Linked DNA regions of Homo sapiens. The protein of the gene in region 1 interacts with the protein of each later gene in a biochemical or structural test. Each region holds a gene or a part of one and is shown on either strand. Other genes may lie near its edges. The genes, in order: VCPIP1, SPRTN and WAC.

The links.
Region 2: of the proteins of VCPIP1 (region 1) and SPRTN, one has a biochemical effect on the other in vitro, tested with the Homo sapiens proteins (one study listed by BioGRID).
Region 3: the proteins of VCPIP1 (region 1) and WAC form a complex in vitro, tested with the Homo sapiens proteins (2 studies listed by BioGRID).

The regions. Positions count from the first base shown.
Region 1 is NC_000008.11:66,665,792-66,669,391, reverse strand, and holds the start of VCPIP1 (deubiquitinating protein VCPIP1), read left to right. Parts: upstream 1-2,160; 5' UTR 2,161-2,433; coding exon 2,434-3,600. UniProt on the Homo sapiens protein: Deubiquitinating enzyme involved in DNA repair and reassembly of the Golgi apparatus and the endoplasmic reticulum following mitosis. Necessary for VCP-mediated reassembly of Golgi stacks after mitosis.
Region 2 is NC_000001.11:231,341,126-231,344,955, forward strand, and holds part of SPRTN (DNA-dependent metalloprotease SPRTN), read left to right. Parts: intron 1-3,830. UniProt on the Homo sapiens protein: DNA-dependent metalloendopeptidase that mediates the proteolytic cleavage of covalent DNA-protein cross-links (DPCs) during DNA synthesis, thereby playing a key role in maintaining genomic integrity.
Region 3 is NC_000010.11:28,535,986-28,539,815, forward strand, and holds part of WAC (WW domain-containing adapter protein with coiled-coil), read left to right. Parts: intron 1-3,830.

The DNA.
Region 1 (3,600 bases):
CAACAAGAGTGAAACTCTGTCTCAAAAAAAAAAAAAAAAAAAGAAAGAAAAATATCCCAAGATAGGAAAAATCACTTCTCTTGTAATTAAGGTCCATTATGGAGGATTTCTCTTTCAAATATTTATTTTCAAGAAAATTGTAGCAATTAGGTGCACATCAAAACTAATACCCTTTATGGGCCTCTATTTTGCAGATGGTTCATTTCAAAGCATCAAGTTCTACATACATACATACACACACACACACACACACACACACACACACACACACAACCTAATCAGGCGGTTTCCTGGGCAGCTACAGAAGACTCAAATGATCTCATGGACTTCACTAATGTTTCTAGTTGGTGCCAAATGTTTCAGAAATTTTGAGGTAGTCCACTTACCTAAGGTGATACTAAACTTCCAGAAAGCAAGAATTTCCGTAATAAGTGAAAGAGGATGAATGTACAAAAATAATACTAGCTTTCAATTAACATATGAATATTGTTCTGTATGAAGAGGCAGTTTCCTACCCAAGTGAAAAAAGAATAAAGCTGTTGCCTCCTTAACATTAAACATCCCTTCATCACTAAGAGGAGACTCTAAGGCCTAGCAAAAGATTTGAGCCTAACATTTTGGGTTTTTTTTTTTTTTTTGAGACGGAGTCTTGCTCTGTCGCCCAGGCTGGAGTGCAGTGGCGTGATCTCGGCTCACTGCAAGCTCCGCCTCCCGGGTTCACGCCATTCTCCTGCCTCGGCCTCCCAAGTAGCTGGGACTACAGGCGCCCGCCACTACGCCCGGCTAATTTTTTTGTATTTTTAGTAGAGACGGGGTTTCACCATGTTAGCCAGGATGGTCTCGATCTCCTGACTTCGTGATGCATCCGCCTCAGCGTCCCAAAGTGCTGGGACTACAGGCGTGAGCCACCGCGCCCGGCCGGGATTTTTTGGTAAGCAGCAGCGTAAAAATCACTCTCAAGGTTTGAGATTGGGATCCAGCATAACTGGTGACTTGACCTTGGGCAAGTCACTTAATTCCTTTTAGTCTCAGTTTCCCTGATTGTAAATGAAGTCAACACCACCTGGTAAAGGTATTACAGGACTGGTGTGAGGATGAGATGATACATGTGAACATATTATTAAATATGTAAACTATAAGGCAATAGTAAGCAAATGCTAGTTACTATTCTATGTAATACAGGCCTAACCTTTCCTGCCTATGTCCTGATCTGTAAAAAGAAGACAGGTTGAGATCTGAATGTCTATCCACTCACTTATCAGCTGCGTGAACTTTAGCAAGTCATTTCCTTTCTGGGCCTGTTTCCTAAGAAGGTTATTTTTTAAGATCAAATGATATCGTGTTATGCAAATGCTGTCCAGACACATATTAAGAACTTAACACATGATGGCTCTTATTATTCTCTGGGGAGTAGGGTGGTAAAGAGCAAATGAAATTAAACCTAGTTAAGAGAATTTGTATATGCACACAAAACTCTACAGACATCCAAGGTACCGTTATTTGCACTGTAAACTGCCAAAACATGCAGGAAACGAGAAATCAAATGGCGCCTCAGTGATTCGCACTAGAGAGGGGGAGAAGGCAGAGCTTCCGAGAATCAACTGTTTTCCCCCTTATGGCCTCCAGCCTAGATTAGACCATTTATTCAACTTCCCAGCCCCCAATATCCCTGGACATTTATTTACTGTACCTTTTTCACTGAGAGCCTTTCCACTCCCCTCCCCTTCTAGTAGTCGTGAACTTCAGACCCTCGCTTCGACTCCCACTGCCATAACTGTTTTTAACCAAGCTTCCCTGAATCCTCCCCTCCGCCTAAGGAGGAAGTGCAGCTAGACGCACCGCACGGCATCCTAGGAAATGTGGTCTCTCAGACTCTTTGCCTTGGGCTGCAGAGTGGGGAAGACGACGAAGGAGAGCCCAGTAAAACTACAACTACCGGCAGGCAACGCGAGTCACCATCTTTCTTTCGCCCCTTTTCCTGTTGCCGTCCTCTTCCTCCTCTCCTCTAGCGCTGAACCGCTTGGCCTCACGGTACTTGTAGTTCCTTCTGGACTCAAGATCCTAGGGCTTGATGGCCAGCACAGAGGCTGGAAGACTCTAATTCCCAGAGGGCAGAGCGGAAGCTGCGCCTGCGCACACTCAATGAGGGCGTGTATGTCTGTGTCTGAGGGAGAGAGAGCGAGAGTGAGTGAGTGTGAGTGCGGGGTGGGGTGGTGGCCGTTACGTTCGGGGCAACGGCTACGGCAGTGGAGAAGTAAGAAGAGAAACAACGTCCGGCGCTTCCGCCTTCGCTTAGGAGGAGGAAGAGCTGGTAGGGAAAGGAAAGTGCTTCGCCCTGGGCCTGGACTGGACCGAGTCGGGTTGGTGGGGGTCTGGGCTATGAGCTTTTGAGGGTCGCCTGGGACGCGGAGCGAGACACGAGAGCCAGGAGCTATGTCTCAGCCGCCGCCGCCGCCGCCTCCGTTGCCGCCGCCACCTCCTCCCCCTGAGGCTCCACAGACTCCGTCGTCCTTGGCGTCGGCGGCTGCTTCGGGGGGGCTTTTGAAGCGGAGAGACCGGAGAATCCTTTCCGGGAGCTGCCCGGATCCGAAGTGTCAGGCGCGTCTATTTTTCCCGGCCTCCGGTTCTGTCAGCATCGAGTGTACCGAGTGCGGCCAGCGGCACGAGCAGCAACAGCTGCTGGGGGTTGAGGAGGTGACCGACCCGGACGTAGTGCTACACAACCTGCTGCGGAACGCGCTGCTCGGGGTTACGGGGGCACCCAAGAAGAACACGGAACTGGTAAAGGTGATGGGCCTTTCCAACTATCACTGCAAATTGTTGTCGCCCATATTAGCTCGCTATGGAATGGACAAACAGACAGGCCGGGCCAAGCTTCTCCGGGACATGAACCAGGGCGAACTGTTCGATTGCGCCTTACTGGGTGACCGCGCCTTCCTCATAGAACCAGAGCATGTTAACACTGTGGGCTATGGCAAGGACCGCTCCGGAAGCCTCCTGTATTTGCATGACACTCTGGAGGACATTAAGCGGGCCAATAAAAGCCAGGAATGTCTCATTCCAGTGCATGTGGACGGGGATGGACACTGCTTGGTGCATGCTGTGTCTCGGGCTCTAGTAGGCCGAGAGCTCTTCTGGCATGCCTTAAGAGAGAATCTTAAACAGCACTTTCAGCAGCACCTGGCCCGATATCAAGCTCTGTTCCATGACTTCATTGATGCTGCTGAGTGGGAGGACATTATCAATGAGTGTGACCCTCTGTTTGTACCACCTGAGGGTGTTCCCTTGGGCCTGAGGAATATCCACATATTTGGTCTTGCCAATGTGCTACATCGTCCTATTATTCTGTTAGATTCCCTCAGTGGCATGAGAAGCTCTGGTGATTATTCAGCCACCTTTCTACCTGGGCTCATCCCTGCAGAGAAGTGCACTGGGAAAGATGGTCATTTGAACAAACCAATCTGTATTGCATGGAGCAGCTCCGGTAGAAACCATTATATCCCCTTGGTAGGCATAAAAGGGGCTGCTTTGCCCAAACTGCCTATGAATTTGCTTCCTAAAGCATGGGGTGTGCCTCAGGACCTTATTAAAAAGTACATA
Region 2 (3,830 bases), on another chromosome or scaffold:
CAGTTAAATGTAAGTGGACTAAACACTCCATTAAATACATGGAATGGCATGCTAGATTAAAAGAGACATGCTTACAGTAAAGACACACTTATTTTAAGTTTAAAAGGATGAGGAAAAGTAATCATCCAAACACTTAAAAGCAGAAAACTATTGTGGCTATAAGGTTGAGTACTCATTATCCAAAGTGGGACCAGAAGTGTTTCAGATTTTTTTTTTTTTTACTTTGGAATATTTGCATTATACTTACTGGTTGAGCTTCCCTAATCCAAAAGTCCCAAATCTGAAATGGCTTTAGTGAGCATTTCCTTAGAACTTAACCTTTAATCATCTTGTAAGTGCTCAAAAAGTTTTAGATTTTGGAGCATTTCAGATTTTGGATTGTCAAATTAGGGATGTTCAACCAGTATTAGTATCAGACTAAAGACTTCAAGGGAAGAAGTTTTACTAGAGGAAAAGTGGGATATTTTATAATAATAAAATAATCTATTAAGCAACAATACATAATCTCTCCAAAAGTAATAACATAACTTTAAATTTTATGAGGCATAAATTAGCAGAAGCAAAAAGAATATACAATCAGGCTGGGTGCGGTGGCTCACGCCCATAATCCCAGCACTTTGGGAAGCTGAGACAGGCGGATCACTTGAGGCCAGGAGTTTGAGACCAGCCTGACCAACATGGTGAAACCCCGTCTCTACTAAAAATACAAAAATTAGCTGCGTGTGGTGACACAGCCTGTAGTACCAGCTACTCAGGAGGCTGACGCACAAGAATCGCATGAACTCGGGAGGTGGAGGTTACAGTGAGCCGAGATCACACCACAGCACTACAGCCTGGGGTGACAGAGCAAGACCCTGTCTCACTACAGCCTCAACCTCCCAGGCCCAAGCAATCCTCCCGCCTCAGCCTCCCAAAGTGCTGGGATTACAGGTGTCAGCCAAGACACCCAGACTCATACTTGAAGAATGTTAACACAACCTTCTTAGTAACCCAATGAATAAGCGGAAAAAAATAATACACATTTTAAAAAGTTGAACAGCATGATTAACCAAATCAGCCTTAGAAGGAGCCCTAACTGGAAGAGTTGCTTAATGAATATGTATTGGGTAAATGATTACATAAACACATGAGAAAAAAATGTTTTTAAGTAGTGGGTGAGAAGAGAATGGGGAATGTATAATAGTATCAAGTGAGCATTTCCTGTTGGCAGAAAGTTACAAAATGACATTTTCGTCAATGACAGGCCCCATATATAACAGTGGTCCCATAAGATTATAAGACCATATTTTTATTTATTTATTTATTTTTATTTTTTGTTTTTTGAGATGGAGTTTTGCTCTTGTTGCCCAGGCTGGAGTGCAATGATATGATCTCGGCTCACTGCAGCCTCCGCCTCCCTGGTTCAAGGGATCCTCCTACCTCAGCCTCCCAAGTAGCTGCGATTAAAGGTGTGCGCCACCACGCCTGGCTGATTTTTGTATTTTTAGTAGAGGCGGGGTTTCACCATGTTGGCTGGTCTCAAACTCCTGACCCCAGGTGATCCTTCTGCCTCAGCCTCCCAAAGTGAATGGGATTACAGGTATGAGCCACCATGCCCGGCCAGGACTATATTTATTTATTTTTTTTTTGAGATGGAGTCTCGCTCTGTTGCCCAGGCTGGAGTACAGTGGCGCATCTCCACTCACTGCAAGCTCCGCCTCCCGGGTTCAGGCCATTCTCCTGCGTCAGCCTCCCACATAGCTGGGACTACAGGCACCCGCCACCATGCCAGGCCAATTTTTTGTATTTTTTTTACTAGAGACGGGGTTTCATCATGTTAGCCAGGATGGTCTCAATCTCCTGACCTCGTGATCCGCCCGACTCAGCCTCCCAAAGTGCTGGGATTACAGGCGTGAGCCACCACACCTGGCCAAGACTATATTTTTATTGTACCTTTTTTCTTCTTTATATTTAGTTGCACAAATACTTACCATTATGTTGCACTTGCCTACAGCATTCAGTACAGTAACATCCTGTGCAGGTTCGTTGCCTAGGAGCGGCAGGCTATACTCTATAGCCTAGGTATATATACTCTATAGCCTAGGTATATACACTCTATAGCCTAGGTATATATACTCTATAGCCTAGGTATATATACCCTATAGCCTAGGTATATATACTCTATAGCCTAGGTATATATACTCTATAGCCTAGGTGTGTGTATATATATATATATATTACATAGGCTATACCATTTAGGTTTGTGTAAGTACACTCTTAAGATGTTTGCACAATGACAAAATTGCCTAACAATGGATTTTTCAGAACATATCCCTGCCAAGTGAGGCACAACTGTAGTTACCTAAATCATAGAGAAGGGGGTTCAGAAAAGGAACAGACTTTATCTGGTTGAGGAGGTCAAGAAAAGCTTTATAACTGTACATTTTGTTACTACCATCACCACTCCTGCTGCTCACTATTGAGCACCTATTGTGTGTCAGACTTTGGACTAAACGTCGTCTTTACCACAGCCATGCAAAATGAGGATATCCCATTTTAGGGATGAGGAGCCACTTGGAGCCTGTCCCAGGTCTCATGCTGTGATTGTGGGTTTAGGTTCCAGTTTCCCTGACTCTAAGGCTCTTGTTCTGTCCCCTTTACCATTCAACTCATCACTCCTGCGATTAAAACATGGAGAGGTGAGCATTAAAGGACGAATTGTACTTTTGACAAGCAGAGATAGGACAGGAGGCTACTCTTGGCAGAAAGCATGGGAATAATGTGAACAAAAGTGAGTTCAGACAACTGGGGGCATATTTAGGACTAGAGGTAGTTCATTTTAACCCGATAGAACAGTCATGGAAAACAGAGGTATTTTGGGACTGTGTTGTGTATAGATCCTTGAATTAAGACTAAATATGGAAAATGATAGATATTTAAAAAGTTCAGTACCATTTTCAAGATGTTTTTTAATGTTTAATTAAATTGAACCAAAAATCAGGAACCTAAATTTGTTTCTCCTTTATGAGAATAGATCTTTATCATTGCTCTAATTTAGAACATTGAGAAACTTTTGCAGTACCTTTCTTGAATTTGAGTCTTCTTCGTTGAGCGGCATTTACTTGAAAAATAAAGTTCTGGCTGGGTACAGTGGCTCATGCACGTAATCAGATAGATGGATTGCTTGAGCCCAGGAGTTGACCTGTCTGGGTAAGATGGTGAGACCTTGTCTCTACAAAAAATTGAAAAAAAATTAGCCAGGTGTGGTGACATGCGCCTGTAATCCCAGCTGCTCAGGAGGATGAGATAGAGGGATCCCTTGATGCCAGGAATTTGAGGCTGCAGTGAAATATAATCATGCCACTGCACTCCAGTCTGGGTGAAAAAGTGAGACCCCATCTCTGAGAAATAATAAGATAAATAAATAAAGTTCCTTTTAAGAGATACAGTTGATAATTTTTAGAGGGATATATGAATGACCAAGTTAAAATGTTTGATTCTCTCATTTTTCTGTTCAGCATAATTTTATAAGACTAAAATTCATTAATGACAGTCTAGTTCTTCTGATGGAAATTGTTTTTTAAAAAAATTATGGAGGATCATGAAAAAGGTATGTCTTTGAAGATCTTTCTGATTTTTGCTTAAAAAAATTATTTATATTTTTTAGAGCAAAAACCCCAGCAATCTTAAATGCTTTTGTTAATTTTGCACAGAAACTTGTGCATCTTTGGTGTGGAATGAGCAGTAGGTTTTAGTGTTTGTTTCAAGTTTTCATGATTTCTGAATCAAAACCCAAAAGCTGTAGAAAGCTATACACAAAGATGTCTTGTTCAGTGTCCTCCTCTATCTTG
Region 3 (3,830 bases), on another chromosome or scaffold:
TAATCTCAGCACTTGGGAGGCCGAGGCGGGCAGATCACCTGAGGTCAGGAGTTCAAGACCAGCCTGGCCAGCAGGTGAAAACCCATCTCTACTAAAAATACAAAAGTTAGTTGGGCATGGTGGTGGTGGCAGGCGCCTGTAGTGCCAGCTCTTCAGGAAGCTAAGGTAGGAGAATCACTTGAACCTGGTTGGTGGAGGTTGCAGTCAGCCTGAGATGGTGCCACTGCACTCCAGCCTGGGTGCTAGAGTGAGACTCCATTAAAAAAAAAAAAAAAGCGGACTTTAGTGTTTAATAATAAGGGAATGCATTTATGAATATAGTTTAAAACATGCTTTCTTAAGGATGGGAAAAATGCAGGACTTTTTTCCAAGAAAGGAACTTTGACCTTTTAAAGATTTCAGTTTGAGATCCTTATTGTTGCTTCAGTTTGTTACTTTTTAAGGTGTTCAAATCTGTTTTCTAATTACAATGATAAACTATGAATTTAAAAACTCATTATGTTTTTTCAGGATAGTTCCCAGATTTAAAAAATTATTTATGACTTAGAAAATACATTCTTGCTTTTTGTTGTAAACATTTTCAGTATTCTCCAGTTTTGGTGATGTGATTTTTATACCTGGTTCATTGAAATATTCTTTTTAAAAGTTAGTCTGATTTCTTTTGCACAGTCCTGTACCTTCAATTATAAGTTTGCCTCAAGCTCTTTGTGGTAGGAGTCTGAGAATAAGTAAACAAAACCAATTCTCAGTAACTATTTTCAGACTTAATTTGCCCGAATTACATTTCATGTCAAAAGCATGCATTAAGGAACAAAGCAATTTCAGTAAAGACACCTATATTCTCTCCTACATGTTGCTTAAGTAGATAACATATCTTAAGCAGATTTACAATATTAAAAGCTTCCAAGGAAACTCAGTAAAGTACCATGTGACTTTTTGCCCCTATTGGCAGCTAGTTCTTCAATACTTGGCTTACTTTAAAAAAAATACCTTGCATCTTGCCCCTTTTGTCCACCTAGGATAGAAATCAGCTTTATTCAGTGTGATCATATACTGAGAAACATTGGCTTCCTCTACATAATTACTGGTTTGAGAAAATACAGTCAGAAGATTGCACTGGGATTGAATAATTTGGATGAGAAGAAAGTAGTTCTCTATTGAATGTAGTTATAGCTTAGTGCTATTTATGCAGATAAACCACATTTTTGTAACAGTAGTAGCAGGTGTATTTGATTATTAAAGTGTTACAAGTTATTGGGTTGCAAAATTAAGCTTTTAGAGTTATCAGTTTTGTGGGTAAGTTTTCCATAGTATTATGTAAAGCCTGAGATGGTACTCTCTATCAACCACTCTTCTATAGTGGATTTCATTTCTAATGTTAGCTCTTGGAGAGCAGGTACTGGTTGTACTATACTGTATTTATTTTGAAAAATTTGGTGATTGTAACAAAATAGGATATGGCACCTCATCTTCTTACAAATAGGCTCTTATTTTAGTGACTATGATCCAGTTTATCCCCAAATGCAAGAAGTCAGTTTTTCAGTTATAAATGCTTTCAATCATTTCCAGCAAACCTTGCTCAGCCAATTCTTTTACAGGTGAAGTAATCCCAAGAACATTCTGTTGCTTATTCATTCAACAAACCTGGGGCATCTACTGTGTGCCAACATTTGTGTGATACTCCTGGGAGTCAAGATGTGATCCTGGCCTTGAAGCTATTCTTAAATGCTTTGACTCTTGAGAGCTAGTGGTGTTTTAGCCACTTACTTTTTCTGTACCCATTTTTTCTTCACTTTGATTTTTTCATTTTTCTACCTGTATGAACTCCAGGTACTTGTTAGCTTTTCGTTTTTAAAAATTTGCATCTTTCCTGATGTTTCTTTAGCTTCATTTGCAAGAAACTTGATGTTTTTCTGATCTAATCACTTGCTAAGTTAGGCCCCACTTTCCAATTTTCTTTCTAGCTGATTGTCGTCTTCTGGAGTCTTCCAGCTAATACTGTGATTCCATTCCTGTCTCTACCATCTCTAACATACCTGGCTGCCATATTCCTTTATATTATATGGAAATAATAATATGAGGTATATCTCCATTCTGGAATTGAGAGTACATCTTTGATATTCTCTCTTCAAAAAACGTAAAATGGTGATTTTTCCTCATTTTATAGTGAGATATTTAGTCATTATAATTTGTTTTCTGGTGTTTATTTTTTATTGCTAATGATGTGTTTGGCACTAAGATGTTAAAAGTGTATATGTATGATTTTTATTGCAGGCATTATAAACTCCTTTGGATTTTTATCCAAAAATGAATTCAGGCCGGGTCAGTGGCTCACGCCGGAATCTCAGCACTTTGGGAGGCCGAGGCAGGCAGATCACCTGAGGTCAGGAGTTTGAGACCAGCCTGGCCAACGTGGTGAAACCCTGTCTCTACTACAAATACAAAAGTTAGCTGGTTGCGGTGGCGAGTGCCTGTAATCCCAACTACTAGGGAGGCTGAGGCAGGAAAATCACTTGAACCCAGGAGGTGGAGGTTGCAGTGAGCTGAGATTGTGCCATTGCACTCCAGCCTGGGAGACGGATTGAGACCCTGTCTCAAAAAAAAAAAAAAAAAAAAGAATTCAGCCAGGCACAGCTGCTCATCTCTGTAATGCTGGTTGCTTGGGAGGTTGAGATGGGAAGGTCCTTTGAAGCCAGGAGTTTGAGACTAGCCTTGGCAACATAGCAAGACCCTGTGTCTACTAAAAAAAAAAAAAATTTTTTTTTTGATTAGCTGGGTGTGGTGGGATGATTGCTTGAGCCCAGGAGTTTGAGGTTAACAGTGAGCTGTGGTTGTGCCACCACACTCTAACCTGGGTTGATAGAGTGAGACCCGTCTGTTTAAAAAAAAAAAAAAAAAAGAAAAAAATTAATGTATATAAATTCAAGACCATTATCAAAAATCAAATGCAAGTGAGTTGGATTATCTAAGCTCTAAGCATGTAAAAAACTTAAGATTACAGCAGGTTACTTACTATATGCATTGAACTACTGAATTCAAATTTCCCAGTTTTTCATTTTAAGATTTAATGATTTTCTTTACTAATAATAACCTATATGCTATGATTTGTAACTTGCATTTTACAAAGCAAGTTAAATGTGGAACTTGTGCGTTTGTTTACCTTAGGATTAGGCTTTACTGGCATCACAGCATTTTTCAGTAATTACTAGATTTCTTAGCATCTTGGATTTCATTGAAAAATGCTCGTTCAGAAGTAATGTATGAAAGGACTTGCAGATACAATATAAAAAGTGAGAAATCAGGGATTGTGAAGGTTTTTATTCCCAAAAACCTTGCTAGTTAAAATAAGACTTGCTGTAACATAGCGTGTATAGTTTAGAGTTAGAGATTTTATCCATTAGGATTTATTAAAGGAAATAATGTCTATTGTAAATTTAAGATAGGTTATGTGAGAGTATAATTAAAATATTTTTTTGTGAAATGAGTTATTTTTATATAGTCTGTGATCTGTCTGAAAACATACAATCTTGTTTAAAGTAACCAAAAGCAAAAACCTTAAGGTACAATCGTTAGGGTTTGTTTTTTGGTTTTTTTTTTTCTGGAGACAGAGTTGCCCAGGCTGGAGTGCAGTGGTGTGATCCTGGCTCGCTGTAACCTCTGCCTCCTGAGTTCAAGCGATCCTTCTGCCTTAATGTCCCAAGTAGCTGGGATTACAAACATACGCCATCATGCCCGGCTAATTTTTGTATTTTTAGTAGAAATAGGGTTTCACCAAGTTGGCCAGGCTGGTCTCAATCTCCTGCTCTCAAGTGATCCACCTGCCTCGGCCT